Linked DNA regions of Homo sapiens. The protein of the gene in region 1 purifies or fractionates together with the protein of each later gene. This does not show direct contact. Each region holds a gene or a part of one and is shown in the gene's direction. Other genes may lie near its edges.

Evidence for each region.
Region 2: the proteins of ZNF3 (region 1) and PTPRK purify together in Homo sapiens (affinity purification with mass spectrometry; 2 studies listed by BioGRID and IntAct, with this or other methods). This does not show direct contact.
Region 3: the proteins of ZNF3 (region 1) and CEP135 purify together in Homo sapiens (co-immunoprecipitation; one large-scale study listed by IntAct). This does not show direct contact.
Region 4: the proteins of ZNF3 (region 1) and SHCBP1 purify together in Homo sapiens (affinity purification with mass spectrometry; 2 studies listed by BioGRID and IntAct, with this or other methods). This does not show direct contact.

The regions. Positions count from the first base shown.
Region 1 is NC_000007.14:100,078,924-100,082,878, reverse strand, and holds the start of ZNF3 (zinc finger protein 3), read left to right. Parts: upstream 1-1,155; 5' UTR 1,156-1,244; intron 1,245-3,222; 5' UTR 3,223-3,343; intron 3,344-3,955. UniProt on the Homo sapiens protein: Involved in cell differentiation and/or proliferation.
Region 2 is NC_000006.12:128,514,100-128,517,599, reverse strand, and holds part of PTPRK (receptor-type tyrosine-protein phosphatase kappa isoform b precursor), read left to right. Parts: intron 1-3,500. UniProt on the Homo sapiens protein: Regulation of processes involving cell contact and adhesion such as growth control, tumor invasion, and metastasis. Negative regulator of EGFR signaling pathway. Forms complexes with beta-catenin and gamma-catenin/plakoglobin.
Region 3 is NC_000004.12:55,951,945-55,955,444, forward strand, and holds part of CEP135 (centrosomal protein of 135 kDa), read left to right. Parts: intron 1-141; 5' UTR 142-186; coding exon 187-299; intron 300-446; exon of another isoform or gene 447-527; intron 528-1,140; coding exon 1,141-1,331; intron 1,332-2,271; coding exon 2,272-2,439; intron 2,440-3,500. UniProt on the Homo sapiens protein: Centrosomal microtubule-binding protein involved in centriole biogenesis. Acts as a scaffolding protein during early centriole biogenesis.
Region 4 is NC_000016.10:46,618,580-46,622,789, reverse strand, and holds the start of SHCBP1 (SHC SH2 domain-binding protein 1), read left to right. Parts: upstream 1-1,410; 5' UTR 1,411-1,430; coding exon 1,431-1,533; intron 1,534-4,210. UniProt on the Homo sapiens protein: May play a role in signaling pathways governing cellular proliferation, cell growth and differentiation. May be a component of a novel signaling pathway downstream of Shc. Acts as a positive regulator of FGF signaling in neural progenitor cells.

The DNA.
Region 1 (3,955 bases):
TGTTCATACATTGCATGTTTCATTAGCATCTTAAATTTCCACCCAGGGGCGTGTTTTTTACCAAGATAATGAGCAAAGGGTCAGTTTGAGGACAGGTGAAATCAAAATGCGCATGCTCCCTACAGGGGAAAGTCCCTACTGGAGAGCGCTCAGCTTGAATGAGCTCAATTACAATGCGAATGCTGGGGCTTACTGTGTTGACTGCGGTCACCACGGTTGCCGCGTCTCCAGGACACGGTCACTTCCTTGACTATCCCCGCCTCGCTTCCACCTGTAGCTTCCTTTTTTTTTTTTTTGAGACAGTCTCACTCTGTGGCCAGCCTGGAGTACAGTGGTGCGATGTCGGCTCACTGCAACCTCCGCCTCCTGGGTTCAAGCGATTCTCCTGTCTCAGCCTCCAGAGTAGCTGGGATTACAGGCGTCTGCCACCACGCCCGGGTAATTTTTTTGTATTTTTAGTCGAGACGGGGTTTCGCCATGTTGGCCAGGCTGGTCTCGAACTCCTGACCTCAGGTGATCCGCCCGCCTCGGCCTCCTAAAGTGCTGGGATTACAGGCGTGAGCCTCCGCGCCCGGCCGGTAAGCTTCCTCTTCTCTGCTCTCATCACCTGTACACGGGTTTTTTCCTCATGTCAACTCTGTGATGGACTGGAATGTTTTCTTCAGATGTGGGTAATTTAAAGGGGGCATTTTTACAAGAAACAAAAAAAACTCGGTTTGTTCGGAGGCAAGTTTTAAATCAGGGTTCATTTTTTAATATTGATGAATCCTTCAATAATTGTATGTTTACTGCTGCCCTTCGCGAGCCAGCCTGAGAAGCGCGGGCTCGACATCCCCGCGCGCCCCCGCCGCCCGCCCCCAAGGCCGGCGACGCTGGAGCACATGTCCTGAGGCCCAGGACCGTGGTCGGCCGCTTTCGCACATTCGTGGCCAGCAGAGGGCGCAGCCGGCCAGCCCCCGCAGCGAAAGATCCCCGAGTGCCGCGTCAGCGATCGCGCTCCTTGCCCTCGCCGCCTGCCAGCCGCCCTGAGTCAGCAAACCACAGAGAGGCGAGGACCTCCCATTTTCCTAGACAGAACAAGTGGGCGTTGGGGGTACGGGTGAGTGGCAAGAACAACCGACCCGGAAGCGAAACGAGGGGGAACTTCCGTTCTTTGTTCTGTCCCCGGTGTGTGGGTCTGTGACAGGGTCCAACAGGGCCTGGTCCGTGTCCGGTCCCCCAAATCTGTCGTCCCTGCCCCCAGGGTGAGTCCACGCGTCCCCGGGTCTCGCGGTGAGACGGAGGCTGTGGTCGCCGGGGAAGGGGGTGGTGTCTGTGCCACTGCGGCCCGCAGGGTCCCCCGGCCGGCCCGGAGCAGGGTTCGGGGAGGCGCCCCTCCGTCCCCTGCAGCCCGTCCTCTACTCCGCTTCCCCAGGGATCCCCCTAGCCTAGCGGGATCCTGCGTAGGGGTTAGTAATGGGGCTCCGGTTCTGGTTTTGTGACTTTAACGGCGACCCAGCTGGAGCGTTTAAAAGTTTCAGCAGAGCGGTAGGGGCGCCTCTCTCTTGAAAGCAGCTAATGACAGCGACCCTAACTTGGTATTTCTCCCAGACGTTTTTATTTGATGTTAACACAGTTATTCGCGCCCGTGGCAGGAGAGGAAGTTTATTTTTACGCAGCTGGGTCCAAGGATCAGAGAAATTCTGCTAAGCGTACGCAGTTAGCACGAGGGCTGGGAGTGGGTGCAGACGCCGATTCCAGGGGTAATCCTGCTGGAGCCCAGTGCATCGCGTGATACACCTGGCTCAGGCTCCGTTTTCAGTTGTATTAGATTCCTGGTTTGATCCTCTCTCCGGAAGTGGGATTGAATCCACATCGGTGTTTACACTCTGAAGGGCTTTTGTAAACTCCAGGAGAAGATAGCAGAGTGATGAACCTGAAACCGATGGGCTAATTAGAGGAACGAGCGTATTATTTTCTCCAGAAAAGACATCTGTGGAGAGTGGGCATCATTTGATTATACGTGTTTGATGGACAGTCGGGTGGAAGGAGAAGATTCTGTTATTGAAGCTCTTTTTTTAAAAAAATTAATTTTTATTTATTTTTGAGACTGTCTCTGGAGTGCAGTGGCGCGATCTCGGCTCACTGCAACCTCCGCCTCCCGGTTCAAGCGCTTCTCCTGCTTCAGCCTCCCGAGTGGTTGGGACTACAGGCGCCCGCCACCACCTCCGGCGAATTTTTTGTATTTTTAGTAGAGACGGGGTTCCGCCCTTTTGGCCAGGCTGGTCTGCAACTCCTGGCCTCAAGTGATCCACCTGCCTTGGCCTCCCAAAGTGTTGGGATTACAGGCGTTAGCCACCGCGCCCGGCCTTTTTTTTTTTTTTCCTTTTAAAATGTTTGTGTGTGTATTAAGGTCTTGCTCTGTTGCCCCCGGCTGGAGTGCCGTGGTGCCATCATGGCTCACCATAGCCTGGAACTCCTGGGCTCAAGTAATCCTCCCACCTCAGCCTCCTAAAGTGCTGGGGTTACAGGCGTGAGCCACTGCAGGTCGCCAGTCATTGAATTTCTGTGATGCACTAGGTCTCTGTGCGGTGAAGGTCCAAGGAGATAGATTTTCAGCGAATCACCTGAAGACTTCTAATGGCTCAGCTGTGCAATGTGGATCCCCTGCTGAAGTAGTTCGGAGCACAGTGTCTAGCAAGTTAGCTGACAGAACGTTAGAACTTTCTTACCCTGGGTGGAGGTGGACCTGAGAACCTACCATTCCCTTTCATCTCTCCACGGGTGCAACGCAAATACTAGTTGTGGTGGTGGTCTTAATTGGTATTTATTAGCATATAATAAGTATTCTCTTTTTTTTCCTTTTCTTTAAATGTCTTGATTAGAAATGAAGTTTAGGCTGGACTCGGTGGCTCATGCCTGTAATCCCAGCACTTTGGGAGGCTGAGGTGGGAGAATCACTTGAGGCCAGGAGATTGAGACCAGCCTGAGCAACACAGTGAGGCTGCATTTCTACAAAAAGAATTTTAAAAAACTCAGCCAGATGTGGCAGTGCACACCTTTAGTCCCAGCTCCTTGGGAGGCTGAGCTGGGAGGATCACTTGAACTTAGGAGTTTGAGTCTGGAGTGAGCTCAAACTCACTGCACTCCAGCCTGAGCAGCAGAGTCAGACCCTGTCTCATGGAAAAAAAAAGACGTTTGCATGAATATTTTAAATTCCTTTTTTTCCCCTTAATCACACAGCATTGGCATCAACAAAAGTCAGAATTCCCGGGAACTTGAACAGAGGCTGCTAAATTCCCAGTAATTGCTCCTTTGGCCTTCTAGGGACTGACTTCAAAGAAGGAAGGAAAGAATCAGGCAGGTAAAGCTTTCCGTGTCTTGTTCTTACTGCCAGGCCATCTATCTCGGTCCCCACGGGCAGCACCAGGGAGTGAGGCTGGCAACAGAGCAGGGGAAGGGCCCTGTCTGGACCTGAAGCCATGGGGGCACAATGGAGAGTTTTCTTTCTGTGAGAAACGCTGTTTACTGATCTGGACACTGGGTGCTTGTTCTCAACAATATGCCTTTGAGTTCCAGCTTCACTTAACCCAGCTGTGAGAGGGAGCTGTTGCCTTTTTCTCTGGAGTCAGACCTTTGACCTGCCTTTCTAGGAGTTTGTACTGAAAGCTGACTTGTTGAGGGCGTCAGCTCATAAATAGCTCCGGAGATTGTAAAGGTGGTTGATAAGAGGATATGATGGTTGGCTCTGAGACACCATTGAAGGGACCCTGCTAGGAGGGCGATGGTGGCAAGAAGGTGTGTCACCTTGATTGCCAGTGGCCTGGCTTGTGCCTGAGTCAGTGCTTTCCACTGTGTAAGGGCTCTGGTATTGGACATTCTATATCCCCTGCTACCCGAAGACCAGAGTTGCCCAAACTTGCGACTGACTTTCAAACAGGACCCCTCTTCCTTTGTTCTTTTTTTTTCTTTTATT
Region 2 (3,500 bases), on another chromosome or scaffold:
TAAAGTGTAAAACTGCTGCACTGTGAGCCTCTTTAAAACCAGAACGTTCTGTAAATCCCAACTCATACATTCTTTCAGTTTCACCTCTCACTTAAAATGACACCCATGTCATATCTGAGGAAACCGAGGCATAGAAGAATAAAGAAGTATTAAAGTTTATTCACTGGGTTGTATAGCTGTGATCTCTTGATATAATGTAAGAAAGTTTTCTGTAGAAGGACTTAGATGACTGACGAAACCAGATGCAGGTAAGGTGACTTGGAAACTCAGCTTTCTCCTCTGTAAAATGGGGATAATAATACCCAACTTGACCTTTCCACATGTTTTTTATGATTAAATGAAGTAATTTATGGGAACTAGCACTGTAAATTGTAAAGCACTGTGCAGCTATCTGGGGTGTAATCATCATTAAGTGCCTTAGTCTCAGCTTTTTACTCCTTCCAAATTCTCTCTCCAGTAAGTGCAGGCTGTTCAGGATTTGTGTGTGAGTGTGTGTGTGCGCACGTGTGTGTGTGCATGTGTGTGTGTGTTTTCACTCAGCCAGTCATTCATTTAATTATTGTTTAACATAGTTATTGTTAAACATAAACATACTAGATTGGCCAGACCATAATTTTGTCAGCACAATGATCGATTATCCTTAATTTTTTTAACTTACCTCGTATAAATCCTTACTTGAGTTAGACCCATGGAAGAGTCACTATTAACATTCCTGGCATTTCTAACTACAGAAAAAAATATTTTTAGTCAGTTTCTTTAGCTGTTTGTTTAACTGTTGGTTCAGGTTTTCAACTCTGTGTTGAGAATAATATGTAGCTTTCTAGATGCAGTCTTATCAATGACCTAGAGAGGGACTATTGTCTCTCTTGTATGATAGGAGCCTGGAAATACAGCTCGAGATCCTGCTTTGTCTATAGTTCCTGACATGTCACCCTGTTGATGTGCACTTAGAATGCTGTAACTCATCTAAGCAGCACCTGAGCAGTATCTGACTCCTTGTTGTCTCTTTAGGTGAGATTAATTTCTCTTATACTTATTACCTGCTAGGAAGATACTTTGGAGCCAGCTTGCTTTAAGGTTTGCCTGTTAGTTTTTTTTGGTTTTGATTGGCTAAATATCCCTCGATCCCTCAATTCATTAAAACTCCACGTTCTAATCACTAGCAATCATATGTAGCTGGACATTTCCAGGACTGTTTTTTTTTCTCTCTCTAGTTCTCTTGCATCTGACTCTTGATTTTCCTAGGTCGTGAGATGTAGTTTTGTGTCTGGCCTACCCAGACGGAAAGAGGAGAGTCTGGCTGCTGTTTGGACATTGGCATGTGTGCTGCTGACAGCTCTTCTCTTTGTGCTCATAAAAGTGAATTTCAAAAATAAATCAACCCCTCTGCCACTCTGCCCCCTCCCACACTCCCTCCTACTCTTTTCTAGCAAAAACAGAGCCCCACATATATATACACAAGATCACAGCCCTTTTGTTTTTGCCAAATATATTTTAGTGCTGTACATGTCCTTAAGAACTGGAAATATGACTCATCCACTAACCAAAGCTAATGCCAACATTCCCACCAAATCTCATATTTCTAGCAATGATGGTTTGTTACAGGTTTTTCTGGCCTTTAAGGTAATATTTAATTCATGTGATAAGATTCCATATAGAAAAAGTGTGTTGGCTACTAATATTTTTAAAGTGCAGTATACCAGGTCTACTCAAACTGGTATTAAAGACAGTGAACATCATGCTAAATAGGGATCTGTGCTGCTCCCATTTCCCCTACTTGCTTTTCATGGAGTGCAGGAAGAGAGATGCTGGAAGATTGAGAGCAGGAAGCATCAAGAAAGTTTACAGATTGTTCTTAAAGACAAAACAAAGAACACAGGGATTCTGTGTGTGTGCACGTGTATGTGTGTGTGTGAGTGTGTGTATGTGTTTTTGATCTTTTACTTAATTTTTAGAAGAGGAAAAAAGTCCTATGGTATTTTTGACTTGTTTATTGAAATCAGCCTTTGCCTTTGCGCAAACACATTTTCTAGTTCTGTCAATGTAAAAATTTCCCTCTGTGTATTCTTCTCAGTCTTTACACTTTGATCATATGTATCTGGTCTGTGTTCCTTCTTCAAATGGTGTTTCTTTTTGCCTAAAAAGGTTGTAATTGCTTTTGAACATGACTTGTTTTTTTAATCAAAACTCATGCTGTTTGTCATAGTACTGAAAAAAAAAAGTACAAGACATCAATTCATGATAGGTCTTAAAACAGTATTTGATAACAAAGTAAGTGAATAATACATTAATCAGGCTATTTTTTATTTCAATTGAAGCAAAAAGCAAACTTGCATATCCATGAACTAATCTTTTAATGTCACAGAACATTTATTTGTTGCTGTTTCTGAAGTCTTTAAGTTCCCTTTTATAAATGGGGATAGACAATTTCAGAACCACATTGCTTGATATTTTGAGATAAGTGAGATAAGTTACATACAACTATGCCTTGGAAAACTGAAAAAATGTTATGATGTTTGATATCAGTGTGAACTCTGAATAGTTTGTAAACTTCACACTCCACATTAGTGCAAATGTGTTTTGTGAAAATACTCCTAAAGAAACGTAGTTTCACATAAAAGGTTTTTAAAGTTTCATGAAGATTCTGTTGTGGGAAGTATGTTTATTTTCCTTTTGTATTCTTGTGGGAATTCTTTTGATCTGTATTTAATATTTTAATAATGAAAACTAAGTGTATGTAATTTTAAAACTTAGTTTCGTGAGGTTTTTTTTAGATTGTTGAGGTTCTGGGAAAACACTGGGCCTGGGATCTAAGGATCACATTGATCCTCTCGTGGAACATTGCCATTTCCCCACTTAACTCTGGTTGAAATTTTTGGCATTCTCCTTCGTGTGTTGATAATCCATAAAAATTACAAGTGGCTTATTTTGTCACTTACAGTTGTTTTAGGATCAAATTAAGTTGTCCTAAATGGAATAATCCGTGTTTCCACTTGATATGATTATTGAGCTCTGATAATGAAAATGATGAACAGGGCAGTGCTGGCTGAATCCTCCAACAGGTGTCATTCTAGGAATTGTTTTAATAAGGGGAATTCAGAAACAAGGCAAAATAAAATAGTGCGTAGTGGAGTTATTGTTTGTATTTATTTTGTTGGGAAATGTGAAAGATGTAAGTATGTAGTCCTCTGTGTGAATACACACACACACACACACACACACACACACATCTTAACAATGCTAGGACTTAGTTGTAGAAACATTTAGGTTAGAAAGAAGGTAAGGGCATCTAGAGATGGTATCAAAACTCCATACTTAACATTTTTGGAAAGAGTAGTGAAAATAGATCACTACTTTATTTCATAGATGTAGAAACAAGTGGAAAATAAGCTGTATATAATCTATACTGTATACTATACTATACTGTTATACTTTTAAGGATAAAATAATAAATCTTTCTCCAGATTGGTATCTATTAATATAAACCCTTCCCAGTGCAG
Region 3 (3,500 bases), on another chromosome or scaffold:
TAAATCTGAATTTTCCAGAAGGCTACCTACCTGAAGAAAAACAAAAAATAATTGCTTCATATTAAAATAATTTTTTCTTCTTATTGTGAAACAACAATCATAGCTATAATAAGATAATGATGTTTCATTCTTTTCTCTCAGGACTTTAATTTTTGGAAGTGAATAAAACTTGTTTTAGAAGACGAGATGACTACAGCTGTAGAGAGAAAGTATATTAATATTAGGAAAAGGCTGGATCAGCTGGGATACCGCCAGACTCTGACAGTGGAGTGTTTACCTTTGGTAGAAAAACTTTTCAGGTAAAGACAAAAATACAGTTTTCAACCTTTATGATCCCTAACCACTTACCTCATTTCTGATTGAACTTCATGCTTTGGTAAAGAAAAGGGTAGCTTTCCGGAAAGGCTTTCAATCATGAAGCTTATCTGTTTTTTCCCTGTCCTCAATCCAGGCCTTCCACACGGCAGAACTCTAAAGGCCACCACTCACGCTGTACTGTTCAAAGTCAACATTTCTGGGGGTTTTCTCTGTGAATGGAATTACAGTTTTTTGGGTTTCTGATATAATTGAGAGACACTTTTCCCTTAAGTTCTTTTTTTTTCCCCCCCTTAAGTTCTATGTCTGCTTCACTGGTCTTCAAATACAGTCATGGATAGTTTCATGACAGGGATACGTTCTGAGAAACATGTCATCATTAGGTGATTTTTTCGTTGTACCAACATCATAGGGTGTGCTTACACAAACCTAGATGGTGTCGCCTACCACAAACCTAGGCTATATGGTCTGTATCCTATGGCTCCTAGGCTACAAACCTGTATAGCATGTTACTATACTGAATACTGTAGGTAATTGTTAACACAGTGGTGCCTATTTGTATATCTGAACATATCTAAACATAGAAAAGGTATTGTGTTGTGCTACAGTGTTACAATGGCCAGATCTCATGAGGCAATAGGAATTTTTCAGCTGCCCCCATTATAAATCTTACAGGACTACTCTCCTTCCTATATGTGGTCTGTCGTTGACCAAAATGTCATCATGTGGTGCATGACTGTATTTTAAGCCTCTTTAGAAATATGTTTTTAGTTATTAGAAAGTTAATGAAATATTTCCTGGTATTTAAATTTTCTGTTCTTTTAGCGACTTAGTTCATACAACTGAGAGCCTTCGGCAATCAAAATTATCTGCTGTGAAAGCTGAAAAAGAAAGTGCCAATTTTGATTTTGTTTTGGAACCCTATAAACTTGAAAATGCAAGATTGAGTAGAGAAAATAATGAATTATACCTAGAGTTAATGAAACTGAGAGAACATTCAGACCAACACGTTAAAGGTAAGTGAAAATTTGATAATTTTTAAAATGCAATGTCTTTGTCCTTTTTATTTTAGAAGGAAAAGCTAACGTCTAATTTTAAAACTATTGATTAGAAAATATAGTAGTCCTACAGCTGGATGGTGTGTGCCTATAGTCCCAGCTACTCGGGAGTTTAAGGTGGGAGGATTGCTTGAGCCCAGGAGTTTGAGACCAGCCTAGGCAACATAGTGAGAACTTGTTTCAAAAAAAAAGAAAAGAAAAGAAAATATGGTACTCCTTCTGCTAATAGCCCCTGAAATACTATAGGGTATGTTGAAGAGTTCCTGAGAAGGAAAATAAATGTGCATTATATAGCTATGATAATCACTATATGTGGATTAAATTTTTAGAATTAAAAATTTAATTAAAATTTTAGAATTAAAATTGCCATAGGGAATATTAAATGCTGGATTTGAAGAAATGTTCTTGAAACAACTTTTGTTTTTCCCTTACTGAAAATAAAAGTAGTAAATAAGGTGAAAACCATGTATCATGCTGACTGTTTTATAGTCAGTCTTTGAGCTGTCAAGTAGAATAGGATGATTTCAAAGGTACTAGGGAAAAGATAATTATATGGTTATCTTTGTATGAATTATTCTTATATTCAGTAGAAAACTTTATCTAATCCATGGTATGAATTCATAATCCTTTAGCTTCAGACCCAATTTACTGGATCAAAAGCTATGATGTACGTTAGGCTAATACAGTAGCTGAAAAATGAAGATTCTCTTTTGTGCTTAGTGAGTTATTTGCAGTTTTGTTAATAATAGTAGAAGAAGGAATAAGTGTCAACTAAAGCATGCATAAGAAGCAGGTGGAGACTTTTAAATTGATATGACTTTTTGTATTTTGTGAAATGGAAAAACTTCATTGGATTTCTTGATCTTTAAAACGGTCTTTGAATCTTTTTCATTTTAAGAGTTGAAAACTTCATTGAAGAAATGTGCACGTGAAACAGCTGATCTGAAATTTCTGAATAACCAATATGCTCATAAACTCAAACTGTTGGAGAAAGAGAGCAAAGCTAAGAATGAAAGAATTCAACAACTTCAAGAAAAGAATTTGCATGCTGTAGTACAAACTCCAGGTAAATCGATTCCTTCTCGAGACAAATTATACACATTTAATCTTTTAACGATATTAACACCATTGACTAAAATAGGACTTTGGATTGGATTTTCATGCTTAGACTTTAGTGTTTGAAAATATATATTGAATAGACCGTAAACTTCTTGATTTATTTCTAATGATCCGGGTAGTAATTTATACGTGTGCTTAGAAATGTATGTAGTATTAGTTACTTAGATACTAGTCTAACTTTAATGCCCAGAGCTTTCTCTAATCAATATTTTAAATTCTTTTTTCTATTATTATTATCATTATTATTTTAGTTGTAAAAGTAATCCATACTCATTAAAGAATTTGGAAATTATGTACTTTCTTAGTTTATTTTACTATTTTTAGCATTATGCTTAGTAGTTATAGAGCAAGAAAAGGAAATGATGGGTCCAGGTGCAGTGGCTCACACCTGTAATCCCACCACTTTGGGAGGCTGAAGTGGGCAGATCATTTGAGGCCGCTTCAAGACCTGTGTGGGAACGTGATGAAACCCCACCTCTACCAAAAATACAAAAATTAGCTGGGCATGGTGGCGCAAGCCTATAGTTCCAGCTACTTGGGAGGCTGAGGTGGGAGGATTGCTTGAGCCTGGGAGGCGGAGGTTGCAGTGAGCTGAGATTGCACCACTGCACTCCAGCTTGGGTGATAGAGTGAGACCCTGTCTCAAAAAAAAAAAAAGAAATGATGGGCCACATCCAGAGTTGGTGATTGTTCAGCAGGTATGGGTTGGTGGTAGAATCTACAATATTAGTGACAAAATCATTAAGATAGCTGAACCATGGGATCAAGATTATGAAATTAAGTGAGTAACAGGGGGCTGCTGGATTATGAGGCTAGGTCAAGACAGATTAAAGAGCATGATGAGTACCAAAAGTAATTTGTTTGCTATGAAGATTGCAGTCAGAGTGGAATTTTGGAGTTGAAGAACTAGAAGCCAGCAGAGTTCTGAGTGATGACAAAGGCCAAAGTGTATCATCTTATTGTGTGCCTGAAGTTGAGGGGAGAGGAGACTCCTGAGAGTGGACAGAT
Region 4 (4,210 bases), on another chromosome or scaffold:
CCTCGGTCTCCTAAAGTGGTGGGATTACAGGCATGAGCCACTATGCCTAGCCTGGTTTGAGTAATATCTTGATGGTTGATGAAATATTTGATAATTGGATGAGAAGAGAACTGTGTTGTCTCCAGTGATGCTGCAAATGGGTGAGGAGAAATGCTGCCATTTGTGAGGTTTGTGGGCGGCAAGGTTGAAGAAGAGAATAATGAAAAAGCTAGCGTCATCCTCAAGGCCTGTTGATAGTCTTGATTATTGTTTTCTGTGTTTTTACCTCATGGTGCTCAATATGTATTTGTTCAGTGAGCAAATAAATGTAAGGTCAGATTCTGCAAACAAAAGTCAAAGAAATCTTACTTCCTGGAAAAGTTAGCCCAATTAAGTGCAGCTTTCCAGTCACCCCTCCTGGCTCCATTTTATTTCAGCTGTAAGGGATCCGAGAGACTTTAGCCCAAGGTGTTTCTTCAAAGCAATAAGTGGAAATGTTTCCCCACATTAAGACTGCACAGACGAACTGTCATGACCAGGCTCTTGGTCCCCTGTGGACGCATCCCACTTGGTGTCCTGGTTACCTGGGCTATCTTGGGCTGACCTCATCATTCTAGTAGTGATGGCCTGGCAGAGACATTAAAAGGCTTCTTCATGGAGTCTGGCTGGTTTCACATCCTGGCTTTGCTGGGTTAGATTGGAGAAGTGACTTAACTTCTTAGTGACTCCATTTGCTCATTTGTAAAATGGGTATAGTAATAGCTCCCGTCTCATAGGATCATTGTGAAGATTAAACAGAACAATCCAGGTAACGCATGCAGGAGGGTATCTTGCACACAATATGCAGTAAATGTTAGCCATTATGATGGAGATTATAGTTGTCTTTGATTAATGCAAATTAACAAATTTACTTACTAAATTTAATTTGACATTCTTTGAAAATATGCTCTCTCTCTCTCTCTCTCTCTCTGTGTGTGTGTGTGTGTGTGTGTGTGTATTGAAAGACAGAGAGAGACTGGTGTTTGGTGGTGAAAGTTTTGGGCCCACGTAGGCCAGCATCCTTTTCAGTTGAAGTTGTGCTTGTGGGAGGTGAAATGACTTGCCCAAGGCAATACCACTAGGAATAGCCCAGGTAAGTTTAAATACTATGTTTTTTGACTCTCAACCCAGTGACTTTTCCACTATATCTCATTTCCAGGCATTGCTGGTTCGTTTTTTTCGAAAATCATTCCAAATTATATTCCAATTCGACTTTCTTCAAGTTCATCCCAGAAAAGCAAAGGCCGGGCACTTGAACAAGAACAGCTGTCAGCCTGGGGCGAGGGGGCAGTGTTGGTGGGGGCTGGAGCGGGGCCGGACTCTAATTGGTCCACGGCCTCGGCCCGACTATCAAATCAGCAGAGCCTGCGTCATCACGTCGTTGCCTGGGCTGCCGTCCGCGGAAATTTGAAATGGCTGACGGGTCGCTGACGGGCGGCGGTCTGGAGGCAGCGGCCATGGCGCCGGAGCGCATGGGCTGGGCGGTGGAGCAGGAGCTGGCGTCTCTGGAGAAAGGTGAGCTCTCCATGCCGGGGCCGAGGAGCCGCCTCTGAGCGGAGGCCTGGGGCGTCGGGACCCTAGGAGGGCGCCTGGGTCGCGGGCCTTCCGGACCCGTCTGTCCAGGGTGGCGGGAACGGCGGTGCGCGGCCGGGACCCAGTGACGGGACCTCAAAGTCGGGCGGTACCCAGGGGTGGGGGACTCCCTCTCTTCCCTATCCGCATCTCCCACTCTCCCTGCACTCTCTGGCCTCCGCCCGCCCCGAGGTTGGAGGGAGCTGGATTGGGCCAGGAATTCCCTATCTGGATGGGTTTTGCGGGAACTGTGCATTTACTGTTGCTCAAGGGGCCATTTTTTCATCTGCATCTCAAAGGAGATCACGAACCACACTTCCCTTTTCCGAAGAAGAGAAAAGCTTGAACCCTTGGCTTAGATGGCTGTCCTGTGCACGGAGGGTAGTGACGTGTCCAAAGTGAGGAGCGCCAACTTGGGCCGGAGTCCAGAAATAGAACCGGGGTCTTCTAGTTCTCTGCCCTTTCTTCCTCCTCATAGAGTTTCATTACTATTTTTTTTTTCTGATATTTTAAGCTGGTTCATGTTTTTACGTTAACACTTTCGGTTGTATTGTGTAGCAGAGAGTCCCAACAAAGTGAGAAAACATAAGTGTGACAATTCCACTATTAACCCACCTATCCAACTGGCAAAAGTCACTTGGCTTCAGTTTTCCCATCTGGAAGACTATGCCAATGGTTGTACTTGTGGTGAAGTTGAAGTGAAATAAAGTTTTTAAAGTGGCTGCAAAAATAAATACTGCATGGCATCGCTTATATTGGGAATCTAAAAAAGAGGAAGTTTCAGAAAGAGAGTAGAGTGGTAGTTGCCAGTGGGTTGGGGGAATGGGGAGATGCTGGGCAAAGGGTCCAAAGTTTCAGTTATGCAGTGTGAATAGTTCTGGGGATCTGATGTACATACAGCATGGTGACTATAGTTAATAATACTGTATTATTATTACAGTATTAATAGGCAATGACGTGATGGTGCAATGCGACACAAATTTTGTACTTGAAATTTGCTAACAGAGTAGATCATAAGTGTTCACACCACACACACACAAAAGGTAACTATGCGAGGTGATGGAAATATTAATTCACTTTACTGTGGTAATCATTTCATAATGTATAGGTATATCAAAACATCATGTTACACACTTTATTTTTTATTTTATTTTATTTTTTTTGAGGCAGAGTCTCACTCTGTTGCCCAGGCTGGAGTGCAGTGGCACACAATGTCAGCTCACTGCAACCTCTGCCTCCCGGGTTCAAATGATTCTCCTGCCTCAGCCTCCCAAGTAGCTGGGATTATAGGCGCCCGCCACCACACCCAGCTAATTTTTGTATTTTTAGTAGAGACGGGGTTTCACCCTGTTGGCCAGGCTGGTGTCGAGCTCCTAACCTCAGGTGATCCGCCCATCTCGGCCTCCCAAAGTGCTGAGATTACAGGTGTGAGCCACCGTGCCTGGCCATCAGGTTATACACTTTAAATGTATATAACTTCTATATGTTAATTATACCTCCATAAAGCTATAAAGAATGGTGCTGGAAAAAAAAAGAATGGTGCTGAAGTACTACTATTTCTTTAACAAACATATACATTATGTAATAGGCACTGTTGTAAATTATTAACAATTAATCTTCTTAATTGAAGTGGATGTACTATTATCTTCCCTTTATAGGTGAGGAAGCTGAGGCATTGTCACATAACCAGTAAGGTACTGATGCCTTCTAAGGTTCATGTGCATCAGTGTTTGTGAGCAGTAGACCCTTGAGTACACTTTGGTCATCTGTGGGTCAAGTACTTCTGGTGGCCTGAACAGGGACAAAGAAATGGAAGGAAGGGGGAAAGGGAAGGAGAAAATCAAGGGGGAGGGAGAAAAAAGGTATCTGCTAACAGCTCAGATACCTTCCCTGAAACCACTTCTGGAGACTACTCTACATTCTAAATGCTACCCTTTTTAGCATTGCTTATTTAGTAGTTGTTTCATTTATTAAAAACATTACATAGAATTAGATATGCCACTGGCTGAATCATACCTTATGAAACATTATATACAGCCCAAACCTAATGTGATTTGCATTTTCTGATCTTTTCCTTAGACACAGTCATTGAAATTAGTGAGGAGGAATCTAATAACCTTACTGAAGTAAACCTTATGGATTATTAAGACTCTCGTCCCTGTTTATTGAGGGGCGATTGACAGACTGATATTGTAGGAAATAAAGGGAGGGCTTAACCCATCTGAGAGGAAGTCAGCTCCCTTTCTTAAAGGAGCTTTATGGAATTGCTTTGGAAAATAAATAACTAAGATACTTGATTATTATCACTGGCTAACTGTAGTATAAATCACAGGCTGTATGCTTTGTAGGAGATCTTGAGTGATTTCCACTGAATTAAAAATCAACTGTCTTCCAGCTGGATGTGGTGGTGCATGTCTGTAGTCCTAGTTACTCAGGAGGCTGAGACAGGAGGGTAGCTTGAGTCCAGGAGTTTGAGGTTGCGGTGAGCTATGATCGCACCACTGCACTCCAGCCTAGGTGACAGAGTGAGACCGTTTCTAAAACAAAAACAAAAACAGCCTTCTACTTCTCCCCAAAACCTCACAGAACAACAACAAAAATCTAACTGTGAAAGATCTTA